Linked DNA regions of Homo sapiens. The protein of the gene in region 2 interacts with the protein of the main gene of each other region in a pairwise test. Each region holds a gene or a part of one and is shown on either strand. Other genes may lie near its edges.

Region 1 (7,529 bases), on a different chromosome or scaffold from region 2:
AGGGCAGGGGGTTATACACCAAGTATTTTAATAAGTGCCGTGCAACTTGCTGCACTGTGGCAGGGGAGGTTAGAGGCCAAAGGTGACGTCCACTCTAATCCTGCTTTCCCCTGTGCCTGCTTGTGAGTCCTCTGTCCCTCTCCCTCATCACAGAAAGTTCTCAAACAGACCTCCCTGCAGACGGGGGCAGAGTCCTTTGGCTCAGCATTTAGGCCTCCTCTTAACTGGCACATGCCAACAAAATGGAAAACCTCAACAGAACTAAACAAAATAATTCTTCTCCTCCCTCAAGAATGACAAAGAAAAGTAGCTTTACAGGAGACATGTAGACAACCTACATGACCCTTTCCCCTCAAGTTCCCTATACTATACTGAACTATTTCCTTCCATAGCTGAACCATTGTGTTTACTTCTATCTGAAATCTAATTACGCTAAATATCAGAGCCCCCACAATTATGAAAATCTATGCCAGCAAAATATGAGGGTCTTTGTGGATTTAATTTTATTTTCCCAGATTCCTTATTTATTATTTTACAATAATGTCTGATTTTTAACTATTTTGCATGTTAGTCTCTGAGTAAAATAGAGGGGAAGAAAATATTGTATTAGGTAGCAAATATATGGACAACACTATAGCAGCTGTTTTTCACATGCTAACTCATTTAATTTTCACAATACTCTAAGGATGAGATTATAAATCCCATTTTAGAGAGAAAGGTGCTAAGGCTCAGAGAGGTTCACTAGCTTGCCTAAGGTCACACAGCTACTAGGTGAAAAATTGGGAACCAAACTCAGCACACTACCTCTTCCTGCCTCCTCTTCCTCCTGGTGCTCTTTTCACTATATTAAAGCAACAATATTATAAATTTGAGTAAGGGCTTTTCTGGAAGTGTTCTGCAGCTCAGCCCCATATAAATTTGGACTAGTCCCTGCCTTCTTTTGAGCCTCAGTTTACACATCTATAAGATGAGAGCCTAAGATGCTGTTTCAGGTCCTTAGGATGCTAACATTCCAAGATTCCAGCCCCCATGGAATTTTAACTAGATCTTCTTTCTCTGGCTCTTACTTTAGTTCTCTCCCTAAATCCTTCTAGCTTCAACCCTTTTATTCACCCCAACTGTCTCCAAGGGTCTCTTTGGCATTAATGAAGCCACAGTCTCACAGACCTTGGGGGGCCCACGAATCTGGCTGAAAATGAGCATGCACCTCTTACAAATGAACTAAGATGTAAAGGAAAAAGCAATTCTCAGCTCTGAATGGGACTGAGGTGGGAATTGAGGAGGCTTTTCACATCTGGAGCCCAACCATAGACTAGAGATCAAATGCCCAGGTCACAGCATTGGCCACCGCTCTCACTCTGTCATCAGACTGGCCCAAAGAACTTGAACATCACCTCGGGAACATTTCCATGGCCCTCACCCCAAGTCCAAGTACAACCTACGTTTGCTATTACACACATCATGCAGTATTATAATGTGCCTGTGTAACAAGCCTGCCCCAGTCCCAAAGGGCAGAGACTGTGTCTCATTCATATTTGTATTCCCAGTGCCCAACACCATGCCTGCCTCATAAAAACTACCCTGAATGAATGTGCAAACTCCCAGGTCTAACACCTCCTGGTGACAGAGATCACTTCTACCTTGCAGTGTGTCACCATGCCTCCCAGGGGGTTCTGCCCAGCCAAGTTAGGCAAGCTTTAGTCCCAAGCCTTCAGATGAATTGGTCCACGGAGGAAGTCTGGAGAGCAGGGACTTTTCAATTTTCAAAACCTTATAAGAATTTCTGCTGTCTTGCCTGCCAGAATCTTTCTTTGGCTCCCAGCAACATAAGCTGCATGCCTCCAACTGACAAGCGACAGGCCAGTTGGTCAGCTGTTGCTTCCATTTACTCAGAGCTGGGCGGCTGTACTGTTTCTGTCACTAAATCAAGGGATCCTTGGGACGGATGTGCTTGGGCGTTAAGGCAGCCTGAGGACCTAGTCTCCGGAAGCTTCTGTGAAGTGTGACTGGGCTGCCCTGCCTGGCACGGTGACTTGAATCTTCAGTTTGCCAATTCTCTAAGAGCCCCAACCCCCCATCCCCAGATCTCTACCCCCAGAGTGGAAGTGATTGCAGCAACTCTTGCAGTAGAATTGGGGGCAGCAGCAGGGGAGGAGAGAAGAGGCTATTAGCAAATCAAAGGAAAGAAAACAGGGGAAGGAAAACACAGTAGCAAATTAAAGCACTATGTTTTCTTTTTAAAAATCCAATTAAAGGGAAATCTGCTTTTGAGTAAAACAATCATGCCCTTGTTACAAAGTATCCCAGGAACCCTCAAGATAGGCAAAACCTTTTTAATCACATTTTTTCTCATTACAAGTTGGCTAATAGGAACATCATAGTAATTCCCCGTTAACTCTTCCACTTTTCACACCCGCACAAACACACTGGGTTATAACAATGCTCTTATTCTATCTTTGTCTCAGACACATTCTCAAGCATGTTGGTTTACTCTCTCCTTAGAATATCCCCGTATCCTCATTCTGATATGCAAACGTATCCTCACCTACAGACCATTCTTTCCTCCTCTCCTCTCTCATGCACGCGTGCACACACACGCTGAAACGCTATATACACACTATATATGCATATAAACATATATGTTCTCCTTTTAATTCAATACTAATCCAGTCATTCGTATTTCCCAATTTCTTCTCAGTCTCTCATACAGGTCCACGCAGTGAAGCCCAAGGGAGATACTTACCTCCATAGCCTGCGGGAAACTTCATGAAGTGAGAATAATTTCCATACATGTTTACTCGTCAGTTCATGTTCCTCTCCTGTGCAGCTTCTAAATATTACCGCCTCTCTCGGCTCCCAGGCACAGCCCGGCTTTCTTCAACTTGGGCTAACAAGAGTGGTCATCGCTTCCTAGCAGCCCGGGGAGCACAGGCTGGGCCAGCCCTCTGGGATTAGTCAGGAATCTGCCTCTAGATCGGAGAGTCCACATAGTGCGTTTGAGACGGCTGTGGCGGCAGCAGCTGGTGCCTGTCAGTAATCACGCATAATGCTGCCGCCGCCGCCGCCGCCGCCGTCACCGCTACTCTTGCCACCGCCGTCGCTGCTGCTTGAGATCCTGTTGCTAGTTTGATTAACTCAGGGTTGGGCTGCTGCGTGCGACTCTTCCAGCTCCCGGCGCGTCCCCAGAGGTCCCTACCGGGTGGCACGATCTATTATCTAGGAAGCCAATCGATGTATGACCGCCCGGTGTAGGTCAGGAGAGAGGCGGGAGACGGCAGGGGATGGAAGACTCTTTAGGTGCCTGTTCCTTGACTTACATCCACAAAAATCAATGGGATTTTATTAAAATGCATTTTCTCATTCGAACTTCTATCTGTCCAATGTACTTGGTATTTGATCTGTGAAAGGAGGAGGGGGTGGGGTTCAAGAGAGAACAGGGCCCTTTCAGAAGCACAAGATTAGAAAAGCGTGATACTCAATCTCCAGCTACGGAAAACTAAAATAGAGTAGCCCTTAAGTTGAGGTGGGCCTCTCCTGCTTGGGTGGCCGGAAGCATTTATCTGTGCTCTAACAATGGGAGTTTGACAAGTGCAGCTGGAGCCAGAGCTCACTCAGGTGGAAAACTTACAGGTAGGGAGGAGGGGTTGGCTTGATGTGGAGGTCTTTCTCTGCATTTATTTTATATACCATTGTTATCCTGCCGCCTGTTCAAAAACACCACTGGGTCCTCACTAACACAGAGCCTGTCTTGTGTGGAACTGACCCGAGATCAAAGAATCTAAGCACCCCGTTGATGTTTGGGTCTGTCATACAGTTTTCGTGACAAGTCACCGCTCAGCCTATACTTGAACACCTCCAATAATGGGGAGCTCACCACTTTCTCATTCCATTTCTAGATAGTTTTCACCACAAGAAAGTTTCTTATAGAGATAAAATCTGCTCCTTTTCCCTACAGCTTCTGCCCACAGGTGCTAGACTGCTCCCAGGGGCCACACAAGAGAAGCCTGAAAGACAAAAAAGTCTTTCACAGTGGGATCCTCTGCAAATCCTGAGATTGATCTGCTGTGCCCATAATCCCCCTTTCCCTAGGCATCTCTGGCTCTTTCAGTAATTCTATGTATCACCAAGGGTTCATGTCTATTCCCAACCTATCCTTTTTCTAATAATGTACTTCAGTTTACATAGATACCCTCACAGTGAGGAAGGGGGTTGGCCAGACTTGGATGCAATACTCCAGATATGGTCCAAACCTTTTCCTCATGGTATATGTGTTGGCACGGTGATGGGGTGCTGTCAACATACCCATTGAAGGTCCGTTTCATGGGCTGAGCTCTGTTGGGCTGGAAAAAAGATAAGAGATTTTCTCCTGATGCAGCATAAGACATAGAGAGCCAGAGAGGTAAGTCAAATCAGGGTCCCAGAGTAAAAAATCAAGATTCAAATGCTAGGAGAAGCCAAAACAAAAACGTAGAATAAAAGACCAGAGTCAGGAACAAAGTCATGATGACAAAGGAGGAGGCCAAAATGGGGAATCAAAGCAAAAGCATGTCACAAAGGAGGAAGAAATATCCAGGCCTTCACTGTAAAGAGCTTTGGAGAGCCCAGAGCTGCCTTGACTGTTGCTGGGATGAGAGTCCAGTGGACATAAGTAATATAGAATACAGGAGGACCATTTGCTCACTTGCATTAGGTGGGCAGCTCTGCATGTTAATTCATGTAGAACTAACTCGATAAAAATCTCCCCACCCCTACCTCCCCTAAGTTGTGTTCTCTTATGCATATTCTTCATCCCATCCTTGGGCAATTGGTTTTGGGACCTACATGAAATGCTTCCTATATTCCTCTGAAGTTAAAACTTTTTGGCTTCATTCATCATCCCAAATCTTTTAGGATCCTGCTTCTGTTGTCCAAAATATTTCTTATTCATACCCTTATTTCATGACTTCTGAAAATCTGATGAACTGCTTTTTCATATCTTATTCGACTCATTGATAAAAATGTTGACATAGACATAGCAAAGACAACATCTTATATCACTAAAAAGTCCATTCATTAGTGCCTTAGACACTTTGCTCTGCTACTCACTAGTTATATGGCCTTGAAAGGCTATATGTATAGTAAAAGCACCAACTCACCAACTCACAAGCCAACATTGCTGGGTACAAATCCCTGTTCCGCTGCTTACAGCCTCATGATACTGGCAAATGAGTAAATCTCCCTGAGCCTCAGTTACCTTATAGGGTTACCATGAGGATTAAATGAGTCAATACATGTTAAGCACTTGAAATACGCCAGATAAATACTAAATGCTCGATACATGTAATCTAATTTGAGGCAAATGATGGGGAGGAGGAGGAGGTCAAAGAGGAAGAGGATGTAACCTTAAGCAAGTCACTTTATGGCTCCTCTCCTTTTTCTCATTTGTAAAATGATGGAGCAGAGCTACATGGGTTCCAATATCATCTTCAGCTTTAAAACTGAACGCAGACTAATGCATCACCCATTCCATAATTGTCCATTTTCTCCATAGTGGTATCTGAAGCAAGTGTCTTACAATCTACAGTTTTCTATTGTACGCATGTCAGAGAAGGAAATGAGTTACTTAAACTGTTTTTTTGTGTGTGTGTGAACCCATGTTTCAAGGGTTTTTCCAAGTACTCAAGTACTCAAAAACCATTCTTTAAAAATCACAGTCTACAGACTTGTCCAAGGTCATTGTCAAGATGATCTGTTGGTTAAGCCACCAACAGATAGACTCTTTCTTCACCTTTTTCTAAGTTCAGTACATTGTCTATTTCTTTTCCTCACAGAAGAAAAACCAAATCCTAACCTGGCATGGAAAAGGCTCACCATTTGTGGGGTGTCTCGGCCTATCATGTGAGCTCTATGTAGAGGAAAGTGCTTTGGGGCAGTAATCACAAGGCTTGGGATACACACTCTCTGGGAAAAACATCCATGCTGCCAGCCTCACTAAGGTTTCTGGATTTAGTTTTGATTTTGTGGATCAGATGTGTTGAGAGTTGGGCACGTGCTCATTTTTACACTGCGAAGTTCTATACAATGGCTTTGTAAAACAAATGCAAAGAATTAATATTTTCCTGATTTTCTTTCCTCCCTTTCTCTGAGAGTTCCTTCTGATCTGGCTGTTTTGCCCACTGTAGGGGTACGGTATGTTCATTCCAACTTCCGGTTTGATATAGTTTGGATGTTTTTCCTCTCCAAATCTCATGTTGAAATGTGATCCCTAATGGTGGAGGTGGAGCCTAGTGGGAGGTATTGGATCATGGGGTGGATCCCTCATGAATGTCTTAGTGCCATCCTTTTGGTGATGCGTGAGTTCTTGCTCAGTTAGCTCTCAGGGGATCTGGTTGTTTAAGAGTTTGGGACCTCCCCCTCCACTCTCTTGACCCCTCTCTCACCATGTGACACACCAGCTCTCCCTTTGCCTTCCACCATGATTGAAAGCCTCATGGGCTTCACCAGGAGCTGAACAGACACTGACACCATGCTTTTTTTTAACAGCTTGCAGAACTGTCAGCCAATTAAACCTTTTCTCTCTATAAATTACCCAGCCTCAGGTATTTCTTTATAACAACACTAAAAGGACTAACACGTAGTTCATTGTTCATGCCCATTTACTTTTTCTCATCACTAAAATTCTTACCTATCATTCAAGTTCCAGCTCATTTCCCACCATGAAAACACTTATCCAAAAAGATGTCTCCCTAACCTAGGTCTGATAAAACTTATTGTCCAGTGTGTTCAGGTGACACTTAGTATGTATGGCCTTGTGGCATCCCCAGTGAAATGGCAAGGAATGGTTATTTATCTTTCCTTTGAATATGTCTTATCTTCATAACATGATTGTTAACTCTTCAAATATAGTGATAATGTATTATGTCTCTTTGTTTTCTCACCTAAGTGCTAAAACACACAGTAGGTGCTCAACAAATATTTCTGTATCAAAAATGCTTGACATAGTCAAATACATCAAAAACAATATACCAAACGGTACCCCAGTATGCTTTTCTTATGATACCTTCCATATGGCTTAATACCCCATAACAAACCATAAGCTCTGCCTAAAGATCAACAAATATGAATGTGGTTTTTTCTTTTTAACCCACTTTTTTTTTTCTTGGCACCATTGTGTCTTCCCTAAGACCATTATTGGTATAACAACGTTATCCTAAGTGGCTGGTATTTCTAACATAAGCCCTTCCCAAACAGCTCCACTGACTTCAGTCACAACTGTGTCTCCAGCTGTTACTGAATTCTCATTAGGATGTCAAGTGAAAGACCAAATGCTCAAAGTCTACAGTAGGAATTAGCTAATTCATTCACAAGAATTCTTGGCCTACTTCTTGTCAAGGCTAGTTAACTAGTCCTCTTAAATAATATGTTCTACTTTTACTAAAGCCATTAGTGCCTTTGAATAAGTGGAAAGAGCATGGATTTTGACTAGTATGTTTGGCTGTTTGACACAAATTCGGCCAATAATATCTAATATTCACCCTGGTAATCAAAGG
Region 2 (7,734 bases):
CCCCAGTCTCTCTCCGAACTCTCAACTTAAAGCCTAGACCCGATACTTTAACAAGAATGATAGAATCCAGAGTCAAGGCCTACCTTGTCTCAGAACTGGGTGGTTATATTAGAGTCATGAACACAGCAACCTCTCCCCGCCAACATCAATCTAAGCTCGAATGTTTTCCTTATCTGCACACCTCACCATCCCACTGCACACATCCCAGGCACTGACGTGCCATCTCATTTATTCCTTCTTTGCACTCTCTGTCAACAGCCTTGTTCACTTCCTAAGATTCCTGACACTCTTTCTTTTCCTAATCTTAGTGTGACCACATGTCCTGGTTTTCCCAGTATGGTCCCAGCTGGTTTACACCTTTAGTCCTGGAGTGAGTCCTAGATAGTCCTTTTTACTATAAGACATGTCCTGGGTTGGTTGGTAAATTACATAATCTATTTATGCTACTCTTTGGTTTTCCTTATGTCCTCCCACCTAGCTCCCCTACATAGTCTTCTCTAACCTCTTTGAGGCCTCGGCAGAATCTTTCAAACACTCTCTTCATGTTACCACCCTTCTCCATGGAGATCACCCGTGTATGATCCTCCTCATTCACCCAGATCAGGAAGCTCTTCTCATTGTTGTGCCTGAGGGCCGGAGAGGGACAGTGATCAAGAGGCAAGGCAAGAATTGGGAGAGATAGAGGGAAAAAAAGCATTTATGAGGGCATGAAGACAAAAGAGGTAATGAGCAGCTTCATACCAAATTCCACGAGCATCTGGCCAGTCTCGAGCCATTCCTGCTGCAGTCAGCAACGGGGACACAGGCTTATCAAACAGAAAGTGGTCCTGGGAAGAGTAACGGGACTTGGGTTAAGAATCTTCATGGTGGCCCCTGGGCCTTTCAGAGCCCATGTCTCATCTGGCCCAGCCTTCCCCATCTGCTCCCACCAACCAGCACCCTCTTAAGGCCCTCACATCAATAAGCTGCTGCTGTTCAGCCTCTGTCATCTCACTGAGCCTATAGTAACGTCCAGCCAGGTCACCCTTCAGGCCACTCAGTGCATCCACCACAACACGTTCCACCTCTCGTCGCTCTGCTCGAGTGCAAGCTGGAGGCAGACTGAGTCCTCGGATGCTTCGGCCAGTTCTGACTCTAGAGGACAATACATACCTCTCATCAAAGTAGCCAGAACGGATCTGGGAGATAAGGGAAATGAATGTAAGTCACAGAAACACGGTGGGAACTGAGGGCCCCTGGGAAAGGAGAGACCTTCCTTAGGCATTAGAGGACTCTTTGTGCATTCTTCCTGCATGCATTGGAAGAAGAGGCCCTTTGGGAAAGCACTGGAATTGAAGGGGGCATTGCAGACCTTTCCCCAAACCACCCACCTTGGGTCATGGTCATTCTTATCTATCCTTCCATCTCCATATATGCTGCCCCTTAAGATATGATTCTTTCCTTACATTAAGATTAAAAGCTCAGCTGTATAATGACCATGAGTCAGGAAATAAGGTGAAGGGGTTGGAGATACAGAGTGTTGTACACAGGCAATGCAAATCAGAAGTGGGATATTTGAACTCACTTTACTGGCATCTAGATCCGTGGTGTGCTTCATTGTCCGGGGGTCATATCCATTGTGTCGCTCTTGGATCACAGGGTCAAACAGGTCAGCAAATACCTAAGGGGAGTTAAGAGGGAGAGATGGTTAAGGAGAGGGAATCCCTCCCCAGACTTCAATTGTGCATTGATTTCACTGGTTCAGAAAACTTAAGTATGGGGGGCTCAGAGTCTTGGGGGAAAGTGAGAGGTCTTTAGGGGAAAGGAGCTGGGATTACTGGGAAGATGAATTGGATCATCAGGGAGACTCTGGGGACCCCCTACCTCATAGGTCTCCTCATCTCCAGCCACCATGCCCACAGTCTTGATGAAGGGGTGGCCAGGGTTGTCCACGCCAGTCTGGATACACTGATCTAGCGTCCAACCAGTGGGTGTGGTCTTGTCGCAGAGCCGTGCATAGACTGCTGGGGTCAGGTGACTGGCCATGCAGTTGTTGTGCTTTCGGAGGTCTGGGTACTCAGCGCTGGGGAGGGGGTACCCAGTAACCATGGAGGGAGGGCACAGACGCCTAGACCTAGTGCAGTTACCTGGGAGCTGTCCAGTTGGCCATGTCTGGCTTTGCTCCGCGGGAGGAGGGGGAATTAGAAAGAGGGTAAACCTTGGTAATCTCTTTAGGGACTTTCAGAGTCTATGCTTTCCTAATAGTTCTAGTTGCCTCTGGCTGGCCAGCTCAGTTTCTTCAGATCTGCTCAGTTCTTTCCTCCCATGACACAACACTACGGATGGAGGAGGGGAAAAGCCTAAGGAGAGGAATTGAGGAAATGAGGGAAGGAGATGGAGGGGAGCGAAAAGGATAGTTCCTGGCTTTACAATTAGGGATTTGGGCAGCCAGTGCAGCTAGAACTCGTAGGGCCAGAGCTGGTCTTGGCAGGTCCCCAGGAATGTTCTTGCTTTATGGTTTTGGCCCCCACCCCCACCCCACTGAGGTCTGCAGACTGCACAGCCCTCCAGCTCCAGGGCCTTCGTGATTATAGCCCTTCTCTGTTGCCCGGATTCTCACTTCTACCCGCACCTTCGTTCCCATCACCTCCTGCCCCCGCCTCCTCCCGCGCCTCAGGCACTGTTACCTCGGGGGATACAGCCTCCGTCGTTCACTGGCAGCTCGTACAGGTTCCGGTCGGAGCAGAAACCCAGCGGCTAGAGACCCCGCTCCGGCCAAAGCCAGGAGCCTGAGTCCCGGGCGGGCGGACAGCAGACGGGAGAAGGGACCAGCCATGGCTTGAGGTCTGGCTACGGGATCCTGGAGTAGGCGCTGGCGCAAGATAAGATCCGGAACAGGGAGGGAGGATGCAACCGGATAGACCGAGGGCCGGAGCTAGGTCCGAGGCTGCAGCCGAAATGGGGGTCGGATTGGAGGCTGGAGCCGGAATGGGAGCCGGTGCCAATCAGACTGCAGGAGAGGCGCAATGAGCTAGTGGCAGGCGGGCGGGCGGAGGAGAGGGAGGCCCCAGCCGCAGTCTCCAGGGGTGGGGCTCCCCCAGGCCCCGCCTTCCCGCCTGCCACCGCGCTAGGTGCGCGAGGGCAGGGGTGGGCAGCACCCGCCAGGTAATTAGCGGGACCTGAGACTCGCGCGTCTAAAGCCGGGGATGTAGCCCCCTCCCGCCCCGGGGATGTGGCCGCCCAGATTTCAGCACCAAGTGGAGGACAGCACCCACGTGGACTAGCTGAACCCAACACCCTTCCCCCACACCCCTCGGTTTAAGCTGAAACTCGATCCGTCTACCCTGTGGGTGTGCAAGGGTGACACTGCCCAACCTTTCCTCTGCTTTCGGCCTGCCCCAGCCACCTCTTCGGTCTCCCGGGGGCAGCCGCGGGGAAACCGCGGAATAAACACAGATACCAGAGGAGGATATGGAGAAAGCACAGGGTTAGAGGCAGGCACTGGGAAAGACACCCACTGGCTCAAGGTCACCTTTTCCTTAGAACCAGGAAGAGGAGCAAGGTGCTTCCTTGCCACCTCTGTGCACGCCTTACAAAGTTGAGAAAGGACTCCCTGGGAGGAACCAAGGAAATATTAATTCTTATGCCATCTGTGCTGTGTCCTCCACCTCCATTCTGCACCCAAGTCTGAAGCCCTGTTATTTCCTGCCTCTGCTTCTCATGATCCCCCACTTTTTGTTTTCCTTTTGTCTCTCCCACTTTCCTCCACGTCCCCTACCTCACCTTTGATCTTTTACTTCTCTGCGTCTTTTCCAGGCTCAGATGTGTTTGCTGCTCACAGGATGCCCTCTGCGTTTTCTCGGCAAGCTTGCCCACCTGTTGGTGGTGCTGGGTGTGGGGGTGGGCAGGGAATCGTTAGTTTCCTCCTCCTCCTCTCCCTTGGCTTCTCTCTCCGTAGTTCCTAGTTCCTGTGCTGGAGGAGAAGGTAAAGTGAGGTGAAGGGTGTGGTGAGATGACTGGGTGTGGGACTGGAACAGGCAGGCACAGGTCTCCAGACACCACATGTGTTTCCTCTCTTGTCTCCCTAATGCTGTTTAATCCAGAGAGTAAAGGCGAGTGGTGTACAAAGGCATGAGGTCGTCAGGGAATCTCTGCCTTCCTCGTGGTCCCCTCTGCTGCTCTCTCTCTCCTCGTGAAACACATATTCAGATTTGAGAGGGCTTTGTTTCCCAGCTCCAGGTATGATTTGACCTTTGTCCTGGTAGCAAGGAGAATGAATGCTAGAGTTGAAATAGAGATGAGGGGCTTCAGCGTGGAGGGTCAGTTAAGGTGGAGTAGCACCGTGGCATTAGTCCCTTCCCTCTGCTATCCTGGTGTACCCACAAGACAGATACTTGGAAATCTTAACAGAGAGTATTTGGGAAAGAGAATTCCCTTTACATAGAAAATTCCCCCATATTACTCTCATTCCCTTCATTCTCCTTAGGCCTTCCTTGTGTCCTTTTATTCTACCTTTGTCATTTGTGGGTATTCTTAGAAGTGTCCACTTCTCTCTTGGGTCCATCCCTTCTTCTTCTGGTAAGACATCAATTATTAGAGAACAGAGTTATGCAGCTGTAGTGTGGAAAATGTTACCTGTGTTGTGGGGCCTCTTTACCTAGGTTGAAAAGTAGCCATGAGTAAATAAATATAATTTCTTAGAATAGCGTGTATTTATCCAGATAAATAGGGAGATAATCTTCCAGAGCAGTAGGGTTGCTATTTGATTGAGAGGGTGTTACTAAGGAATAGGAAGTGGGAAGAGATAATTACCGAAGGAGAAATAAGACAGCCAGAGGAGTAGAGAAATTACCCAAGTTTAGAGAGTAGCTTCCCAAATGTGAACAATAATTCCACTGAGAAAACACATGTACTTATGCACTTTTCTTATCCCTTGTGTGCCTTTTACAAGCACATAATATATTAATGCTCATTTAAAAAATTATTTTGCAGCATATGGAAGTAATCAATATATGGTATTGTTATATGGTATTTCATTTATTTAATAAGAATTATTGTTGTCAATAGTATTTAATATTTTTAAAGCACTTTACAATTACAAGGAACTTTTATATGTATTATTTCATTGAGTTGAATTGGATTGTTCCAATGATTACTGGGGACAGAGTCTACATTTTCATGGGGATAGTAAGGGGAGTTAAATACCTGGAAGATGCTGTAATAGCTAGTTTGAAGGGCTAGAGTGGTGGAGGGGGTATGAGCCTGAGCATGAACTAGGGAGGCATCTATTCCTCTTAGAATAATCTATTCAAGCCATTAGAATCATTTCTATGTCCATTCAGGAGGCCTTGTGGGGTCAGTACAATGAGGCACGACTGGAAAAGTGGCAAGACCCCTAATATTGCAGAGAAGGAAAAGGGAACAACTGTCTTGACCAGGGAAACCCAAGTGAAGATGCGAGGATAATAAGAGCAATAACATATACAATACAAAATGCTTTCATATTATCAGTACCTTTAAGTGAGGTGTTTTGTTGTTGTTGTTTTTTGAGACAGGGCCTCGCTCTGTCACCCAGGTTGGAATGTAGTGAGGTGATCTTGGCTCACTGCAAACTCCATCTCCCAGGCTCAAGTGATCCTCCCGCCTCAGCCTCCTAAGTAGCTGGGAGCACAGGCATACGCCACCACACCTGGCTAGCTTTTGCATTTCTTGTAGAGACAGAGTTTCATCATGTTGACCAGGCTGGTCTTGAACTCCTTGCACTCCAGCGATCTGCCCGCCTCGGCCACCCAACGTACTGGGATTGTAGGCGCGAGCCACTACAATTGGCCTTAATTAGGTTTTTGGGGGGTTTTTTTGGGTTCTTTTTTTTTTTTTGAGAAGGAGTCTGGCTTTCTCACCAGGCTGGGGTGCAGTGGCGCCATTTCGGCTCACTGCAGTCTCCACCTCCCGGGTTCAAACGATTCTCCTGCCTCAGCCTCCCGAGTAGCTGGGATTACAGGTGCGCACCACCACACTCGGCTAATTTCTGTATATTCAGTAGAGACGGGGTTTCACCATGTTGGCCAGGATGATCTCGACCTCCTGACCTAGTGATCCGCCTAACTTGGCCTCCGAAAGTGCTGGGATTACAGGCGTGAGCCACCGAGCCCAGCCCTAGGTTTTTAATCCTATTTTTATGGATGAGAAAAATAAAGGCTCAGAGAAATTAAGTGAGTCGCTCAAGGCTGCACAGCTATTAGAGGTAAGGCCAGGATTCAAATCCAGCTTTGTCTGGAGCATAGAGAAAAAGCAGGCTGTGGAGATAGGAATCAATTTGTCTAGAGTTCCAGGTCCATCCACTTTCTTGCCTCCTCTGTAAATGTCTCTCTGTTCCTTCCCTTAACTTTCTTATCTGCTTCTCTCCTTGTCTCTTTTTTGTCTCCAGTCTCCCTATCAGTCCTCTTTACATCTGTTAAAATTTTCAACCTTTATTTATTGGATCTGTACATATATGAGACCCTGTTTTGTCTCATAAGACAAAGGGAAGACCTGGTTTTTGCTCTGAAGGAACAGCAATGGCACAAACTCTGCCTCTTCCTCTTTCTCAGCATGAGGCTTCCCACCCACCCCGTCGTCTCATGAAACGTCTCTGTCTAGACCACGCTTCTGGACTTTGGCGACACACTAAGAAATCAAAGGAAGGGAGCATCAAGTTGCATTCCCTCCCAGAGCCACTAGGGGTCACGCTCCTCCGCGCAGAAGCGCCGGCCAACGCAGCCTGACTCTGTTACCGGTGCGCGCCCTTCGCTGATTGGTGGAACCGCAAAGAAGTCGCGCTTTGATTGGGCCGCTGTCAGGTGTCGCTGCCTGCAGGTTCGGCTGCGCGAGCGGAGGGAGGCGGGTGAGTGAAGGCCGGGGGCGGTGGGGGAGTGGCTGGGGCTGGGGGCGGTATCGGACCGGGTGGGCGCGGTAGAGTGGGCTTGGTGGGTTCCCAGGGCTGGGGTTCGTTCCGGGTGGGCTCCGCTTTGGGAAGAGGCCCAGCGGAGGGGCCTTAGTGTCAGCGTAGGGAGAGTGAGGCGGCGAAGGCGGGGGCGGGCAAAGGCTAGTGGAGTCGGGATGCGAGGGCGGTATTCGTGACCCGGAGCTGTGCGAGGAGAGTACCGAGGAGGGGGTCGGCGGGAGAGGAGATAGGTATGTGGGGGTCTGCGTGAGGAAGAGGGGGTCCTGTGGGAGGATGGAGGAGCGGAGTCGTACAGGGGAGAGGATCAAGGTGGAAGGGATCTGCGCCAGGAGGGGTGGGGCTGGAGTCCAGGAGGAAGGGGGTAGCTTGAGGAATGGGTTGCGGCTGAGAGAAGACAGCCTGGAGGGAGGGGTGATGTGAGGAAAGAATGGATGGCAGGTCGTCATTGTGGGGGGTCACTGAGGGGTCAATATAAAGATGTTACCAAGTATGATGACTCGTGCGAGAGGGTGAAGGAGTTTAATACTGGGCAATCAGTGAGTGCGAGGATTAGTTGGATTAATGGAATTAGTTGACCAATGATGCGGGGTGGGATGGGGAGGCTGCAGTCAGTATTGGGGCAAGAGTCATAGCAAGTTGGGGAAAGAAGGCGAAACGAAGCAGCTGATACTGAGAACAGGGAGAGGAGCACAGTTGATCAGAGTCGGAATGAGGAGTGTGTCTGAAGAATTAAAAATTGCATTAAGAAGGAAGTGAGGCGTCCACTGTTCAAGGTGGGCAGAAAATAGTGTTGGTGGCCTGAGGAGTTTTTC

What was found. Proteins that work in one complex are often made in the same cells at the same time.
Region 1: the proteins of CKMT1B (region 2) and RXRG interact in binary tests that used the Homo sapiens proteins (3 or more experiments, as listed by UniProt).

The regions. Positions count from the first base shown.
Region 1 is NC_000001.11:165,442,102-165,449,630, forward strand, and holds the start of RXRG (retinoic acid receptor RXR-gamma), read right to left. Parts: upstream 3,026-7,529; 5' UTR 2,793-3,025; coding exon 2,744-2,792; intron 1-2,743. UniProt on the Homo sapiens protein: Receptor for retinoic acid. Retinoic acid receptors bind as heterodimers to their target response elements in response to their ligands, all-trans or 9-cis retinoic acid, and regulate gene expression in various biological processes.
Region 2 is NC_000015.10:43,589,300-43,597,033, reverse strand, and holds the start of CKMT1B (creatine kinase U-type, mitochondrial precursor), read right to left. Parts: upstream 3,008-7,734; 5' UTR 2,816-3,007; coding exon 2,667-2,815; intron 2,340-2,666; exon of another isoform or gene 2,156-2,339; coding exon of another isoform or gene 2,063-2,155; coding exon 1,864-2,062; intron 1,661-1,863; coding exon 1,565-1,660; intron 1,179-1,564; coding exon 957-1,178; exon of another isoform or gene 956-956; intron 828-955; coding exon 742-827; intron 627-741; coding exon 503-626; intron 1-502. UniProt on the Homo sapiens protein: Reversibly catalyzes the transfer of phosphate between ATP and various phosphogens (e.g. creatine phosphate).